Linked DNA regions of Homo sapiens. The protein of the gene in region 1 interacts with the protein of each later gene in a pairwise test. Each region holds a gene or a part of one and is shown on either strand. Other genes may lie near its edges.

What was found. The genes of interacting proteins can lie anywhere in the genome.
Region 2: the proteins of ENC1 (region 1) and NACC1 interact in a two-hybrid assay, tested with the Homo sapiens proteins (one study listed by BioGRID).

Annotation. Positions count from the first base shown.
Region 1 is NC_000005.10:74,634,229-74,637,728, forward strand, and holds part of ENC1 (ectoderm-neural cortex protein 1), read right to left. Parts: intron 3,474-3,500; exon of another isoform or gene 3,266-3,473; intron 2,271-3,265; 5' UTR 2,258-2,270; coding exon 488-2,257; 3' UTR 456-487; intron 1-455. UniProt on the Homo sapiens protein: Actin-binding protein involved in the regulation of neuronal process formation and in differentiation of neural crest cells.
Region 2 is NC_000019.10:13,128,264-13,131,763, reverse strand, and holds part of NACC1 (nucleus accumbens-associated protein 1), read right to left. Parts: intron 1-3,500. UniProt on the Homo sapiens protein: Functions as a transcriptional repressor. Seems to function as a transcriptional corepressor in neuronal cells through recruitment of HDAC3 and HDAC4. Contributes to tumor progression, and tumor cell proliferation and survival.

The sequences.
Region 1 (3,500 bases):
TGGTGAAACCCCGTCTCTACTAAAAATACAAAAAATTAGCTAGGCCTGGTGGTGGGCGCCTGTATCCCAGCTATTCGGGAGGCTGAGGCAGGAGAATGGTGTGAACCCAGGAGGCGGAGCTTGCAGTGAGCCAAGATCATGCCACTGCACTCTAGCCTGGGTGACAGAGCGAGACTCTGTCTCAAATAATAATAATAATAATAAAATAAATAAAAAGCTCTTCAGGAGATTCTGAGGCTCAGTAAAAGCTGAGAACCACTGGCTAATGCCATGGTGGGGGCTGAGGCTGTGGTCAACACAAGTGGATAAGTTCTAGGGGCACCAGCTCTCTTATTTTTACAGCTTTGGTAGTACTTCTGCAGTACAGTCTCTGTGGATCAGATCTCACCCCATGTACTGAACTTACACAATAGCCTAATTATATGCATACTTACATCTATAGCTAAACTTCTTACCTCATGCTCACTCTCTTTAGAATGTACTGCATTTAAGAAGGCAGATGTTTCCAGGTGCTGACAAATGCAGTAGGAATCAGCGAGTACGGGACAGTGGTGATGCTGTTCCACACGTCTAATGTTGGATCGTAGCAGTCCAAAGTCTTGCATCGCTGAATGCCAAAGTATCCTCCAACCACGTAGAGTTTGTTTCCAGAGGCCACAGCATGGCAGCTCATGCGCTTTGCTGTCACATCTCCCACCTTGGTCCACTGGTAAGTCTCACTGTTGAATTTATAAGCAGAGCAGGCAGAGAATTCTGTATCACCCCCCATAATAAAAATCTGGTTCCCCAGCACAGCTGCTGCTGTGTAACGCCAGGGCTGGGGACAGGTGGCCGGTACAGTCCACCTGTTTTCACACTGATCGTAACACTGAACTTTGGGGAGCTTGTCATGACTGACACTGGTACCTCCGAAAGCAAATAACTTAAGTTTGGCACTCACTACTGCGGCGTTGCTAACGCCTTCTCGGAGTGGGGCCACCATGGTCCATTTGTTGATTGTGGGGTCATAATGTTCTACCTGCTTTAGAGAGACTGAGGGGGAGGCCGGGAGGCAGCCAGTTGCGGCCGTGTGCCCCCCAACCACATACAGGCAGTGCTTCAGTTCAGCAGAGCCATGGCCAAACCTGGCCACCAGCATGGGGGCAGCCTTGGACCACTCCTCGTGCAGGGTATCATAAACCCAGACATCTTTTGAGACCCCATTTTCAGACCCCCGCCCCCCAGTAATGTACACTTTGCAGCCAATCGCACATGCACTAAACTCTTTTCTTGGGCTGGGAATGTCAGCCTTGGGAATGATTTCTTTGGCCTTCTGGTCTACCAGATACAACTTGTCACACATGAAAGTCTGTCCTCCCAGAAGGAAGAGGGCATGGCCAGTTTTCCGAGGTCGGGCACAGAGGCTGGTTACCACACCGTCATTCTGCAGGATTTTCAGTTTGCACCTGATGGCCTCTTCCACAATTTCCTTACTCTTTCTCTGCTTGGTGATGAGTTCCTCCATGGCCACATTCTCCATGAGATAGATGGCTGGCAGAAGTGCCAGCCTTACTGTCTGCAACAGTTCTGGGAGGTAGCAATAGCGCTTCTTCAGGTCATAGCTGATCCAGTTAATTGCAGACTCGTACACAAGCCTTTCATCCTCTGTCTCCAGCTCTTCACTGGACAAGAGTTGCACTACCATGTCCTGGGGCAGCTGGAGGAAATCTTCATTCTTCCTGATGGTTTGGAAGTTGCTGAGACACATTCTCCAAGATAGTTCGTACAGCTTGGTGCACTGGTGTGCATCAGACAGCAGCAGCATGCCCAGGCAGTTGGTGGGATGCAGGTTCTTTTCCAGGAACTCTGCACATGCATCCCGGATGTCTTGAAACTCCAGCATGTCACCAGCTTCCAGGAGCGATTCTGCATTTTCTTCATTGATGATGACCCGGGAGGAGTACGCATAGTCAAGCAGCAGCTCCAAGACTTCTGGGTGGATGGAATTGTCAAAGTTGACCTCACTGTCCTGGCTCTCTTTCAGGCCACCACTGAACATGGCCTCAAAGTAGCGACTGCATGCAGCCAGCACTGCCCGGTGGCAAGGGAAGGTCCTATTTCCGGCATGGAGAAGGACGTCAGTGAAGAGACGCTGCTGGCGTAAAAGATTCAGGTGAGTGAGGACGCTGTCAGCGTAGGAGGACTTGTGAAACAGATAGATGTTAATGGAGCCGCTGCTGGCCCTGGACTTGCGGTTCTCATGCACACTGACTGACATTTTGTTTCCACTCCTAAAAATAATAATAATAATAAATTGAAAATGATGCTCCTGATGTTCAGAACAGCAGAACGAAAGCAACAATGGTTTTGCACAAAAAACAGAACACTTTGTTGTTGACCATGCCACCTACTATTCTAGAATAGTGTATGGCCATTCCAGGACAAAGCCAGAGACAACTACCCGGAAGGAAGGATATTCACTGCTAATACTGTTGAGCTATTTGAACTCTGCACTGTTTAAAAAAAAAAAAAAAATCACTGCATAAAAAGCAGGTTCATCTTGGAAAACCTGATTGCCAACTTTCAGGCCATCGAAGTCTTTTAGAATATAAGTCAGCAAAAGCCAAGAGGAGTGAGTCTCATTCCCACAGCTCCCTGTCCTAGTCCAGCTCATTCACTGCGGGCCACTTAAAATGCCAGGTCTCCTGCTCTTATAATGCCAGGATGGGCACTGGCTTTCATGCCCCATGCAACATAAAGCCATGCGTAAAACAAACACCTAATAATTAATTCCATTAAGAATTCCTTTGGTAAGATCCAATCTCCCAGCACATACAGTAAATGGGAAATGTAAGGCCAACTTCTGCAATGATCAGACCTTTATTTAAATGTTACAGATAATGTATTTCATTTTATATATACTTTTGAGACCAAGTCTCGCTCTGTCACCCTGGCTTGAGTGCAGTGGTGCAATCACAGTTCACTGCAGCCTCGAACTCCTGGACTTAAGTGATCCTCCTGCCTTGGCCTTCCGAGTAGCTGGCACTAAAGGTGTGCACCACCAAACCCAGATAATTTTTTGTATTTTTTGTAGAGACCGGGTCTCAAACTCCTGGCCTCACCTGATCCTCCCACCTCGGCATCCCAACTTAAAGATTAATTTCTAACCAGACAGCTCTACCACTGAAGAGTCCTAAAAGCACCCCAATTTCAACATTAACCATATATTGATCAGCAAGCCTTTAGTCAAAGCACAGAATAAATTCTGGCCATAATCACCAACTACCTGTCTTGCTCGGGACAGCTTCCAATGTGAGGATTTGGCACATAAAAAGAAGAATATTTTGAGTAGCATACTTATGACTGCTGTTTTCTGTTCTTCCCGCTTTATATCAATTCTTGGAAAACCAGCTGCAAGAACAAAAGATCCATCCGTCTTTTGATTAAATAGTGCATCACTAGGACTGTTCCTGTATACCTGCAAATGCTGACACCTGCATAGAAGGAGTTCAAAATGCAAA
Region 2 (3,500 bases), on another chromosome or scaffold:
ACAGCCTGTGACTTCCCTTGCTTGTATCTTCCTTCCTCTTCCCCTCCTCAAAATCACTGCCACCATCCTACGAAAACACAAACAAAACAAAACAAAACCCCAAAACCTCCTTAGGGCAATCAGAGGGTGGAGGCTGGATCTAGGAATCCCAGTTACAAGGCAACAAAAATCTCCGCCCAGGAGCTCAAACTCAGAGCTGAATGGGCCAGGAGCTGGCCACTCTGCATGAAGAGGCAGGAGAAACAGGCACCATGTTGGGGGGCAAAGGACAGAGCCCAGAGAGCCTACTTCAGGGGTCCTGGCAGCCCTGAACCACCTCCCTGGGCAGCCAAATTAAAGCCACCCCTGGTACTGGGGCCCACATGACAAGGACCAAGATGGTCAAGGGAAGAGGCTGGCATCCCAGTTCCTAGAGGGGTGCTCCAAGCTCATTCCCCAGGGAGGAGGACAAAGCCAGGACAGGTGTGCAGTGCTGCCAAAATCCTGCACCTGCCTGTGCCTCAGTTTATTCATCTGTAAAATGGGCTGTTCATCCAACCCATCCTGATGAACTGCATCCTCCTTTGTGGGAGGTGCTGGGGACACAGCCCTAAAAGGACCAGCTGTGCTTATGTGGAGCTGTCTAGTGAGGAGACACCGGGGATGATTTAATTACAGTTGGGGTGGGTATGTCAACCAAGCAGATGGCCTTGGTGGTAGGGACCATAAAAGGTTGAGCAACTGCCAGGACAGAGATAACACTTCTGGGCGGGAAGGTATCAGGTGTGGTCCAGGGACCCAAAGAAAGCTGGTGTAGCTGAAGGGCGATGTAGCAGGGACAGGGCTGCCAGGAAGGGTATGGGACAGGTGGGGTCCTGGCCTACAGAGTGTGGACATCTTTGAAAGTGAGCCCCAGGGTCAGGGCAGCATTTTAAGAGTTATATGTACAGGCCAGGCGCGGTGGCTCACGCCTGTAATCCCAGCACATTGGGAGGCTGAGGCGGGCAGATCACCTGAGGTCAGGAGGTCAAGACCAGCTTGGCCAACATGGTGAAACCCCGTCTCTACTAAAAATACAAAAATTAGCCGGGTGTGGTGGTGCACATCTGTAGTTCCAGCTACTCAGGAGGCTGAGGCACGAGAATCACTTGAACTTGGGAGGTGGAGGTTGCAGTGAGCTGAGATCGAGTCACTACACTCCAGCCTGGGCAACAGAGTGATACTCCATCTCAAAAAAAAAAAAAAAAAAGAAAAGAAAAAAGAGGTGTATGTACAGTTAACCCCTCCAAGGGCACTGTCAGCTCAATGAAGGCAAACATTCTGGCTGGTTTTATTCAAGATTAGTTCTTTAGAATGAAATAGATGCTCAGTAAATATTTGTAAATGTGTTAAAGAACAGTGCAGAGAGGCTGGGCACGGTGGCTCACGCCTGTAATCACAGCACTCTGAGAGGCAGAAGCAGGAGGAGCCCCTGAAGCCAGGGGTTCAAGACCAGTCTGGGCAACATAGTGAGACCCCTATCTCTACAAAAAATTTTAAAATTAGTGGGGCTTGGTGGCTTGCACCTGTAGTCCCAGCTACTTGGGAGGCTCAGGTGGGAGGATCACTTGAGCCAAAAAGTTAGAGGCTGCAGTGAGTGATGATTGTGCCACTATATTTCAGCCTGGGTCATAGAGCGAGACCCTGTCTCTAAAACAAAAAAAGCAAAAACAAAAAACCACATCCCCCGACCCCACTACCCCACCAAAACCAACCAACCAACCAGCCAACCAAACAAACAAACAAAACAGTGCAGAACGGGCACAGGACTGCTTCAAGGTGACCTTACCAAGCACCCAGCACCGGCCACAGGTAATTTTTTTTTTTTTAAAGACAGGGTCTCACTATGTTGTCCAGGCTGGTCTTGAACCCCCCCATTTGGCAATGGAGACTGAAAGGTTACGGGGATAATAGGAGGCAACAGAGATGTGGGGGTTGGGAAGGTGGCCCAGGTCCCCTCCTGAGAATGAGAGCCAACCTGATGCTCAGACTGAGGTCCCCCATACCTTGTGAACCTCAGCTTCAGAGCCCAGCACCACAGCACCCAGGGCTTTGGAGCCTTTGATTAGCAATTGGTCCAAATAGCTCAGCCAATTAGCGCACGGGAGCTCTCCCTCCCTCCATGCTGCTGGGGACGAGCGGAGTGGGGCGACGGGTCTGTGAGCCACAGTGACCTGAATGCTGTTCGTCTAGTTCCCCAGTGGCCCCCGCACAGAGTGGACAGGGGTGAGCTGCAGTGTGGGCCAGAGCAGACCCATCTCTGGGAACCCCTCCATCCCTCTGTGATTGGCCCAATCCGGCCCAATCCTGCCCAATGGACTCAGGAGAAAAACTATGTGGGCCCCTGCAAGAAGCCCTCACCCACGCTAGCCCCAGGAAGGGAGCTAGCATGACTGGACTCAGAGGAAACGGGTCTCTCGCTGGCAGGTCCCTAGCAGGGTCACCTGCTGGCTGAAGCAGGGGTGGGATGGAGTCGAGGATTGAGGTCTCTAAACCACCTAATGGTTCTAGTCCCCACCAAATCCCCACCTAAGTCAGGCTCAAACACACTGCCTGGTCCTCCTCTACTGCAGCGAGGCCTTTGCCCAAGCTGTGCACCCTGCCTGGAATACCCTCTTCCTCCACCCTCAGCTACTCACTTCTCCAGGCTAGAGAAGATGTCCCTCTCCTGCCCCACCCCGGCCACAGTGCCCTTAAGCTTACCTCTGAGGAAACTAAGTCCCACTTGACTATAAACTCCCCAAGGGCAGAAAACCATATGAGAATCATCTCTCCTTAAAATTCAGCATATCAGCACCCCTGAGGGTGTGGGGGACAAGGGCAGGAGGCCACAGGGCAGCTGGGACCTTCCTGGCCAGGACAGTGCCTAGTCCTGGCCCTGGGCCTGAGCAGATCTTCTGGTGAGACCCAAGGGCACAGCACACGGTTTCCATGACTTCCCAACAACTACTCAATAAATATTTGCCAGGTCCCTGCCTGGGCAGGCCACAATGGTGACAAAGTAGCCCTGCCTCTGGAGCTCACAGTCCAGCAGGAGACAGGGCCATTCATCCTTGGTCACACAGATCAATGTGCTACACACTGGGGTGCCTGACCTTGCCCAGAAGGGGTGACACTGGAGCTGAGATCTAGGAAGGGCAGTAGTGGATGGGGAGTGTGGCCCTTCCAGAAAGGGTTTTCACCTCCAGGGGACTGGGCTCAGTCTCAGGGCTCTGCTATGGACAAAGTATGTCCCTCCAAATTCACAGATTGAAACTCTGAGCCCCAATGTGCCTGTATCTGGAGATAAAACCTTTGGGAGCTAATTAAGGTTAATTGAGGTCATAACGGTGGTATTAAGAAGGCAGCTGTCTGCAAGCCATGAAGAGAGCCCTCACCAGAACCTGACCACGCTGGCACTCTCATCTAGACTGCCAGCCCCCAGCACTCTGAAATATAAATGTCTGTTGTTTAAGCCACCCAGTCTGTGATATTTTGTTGTG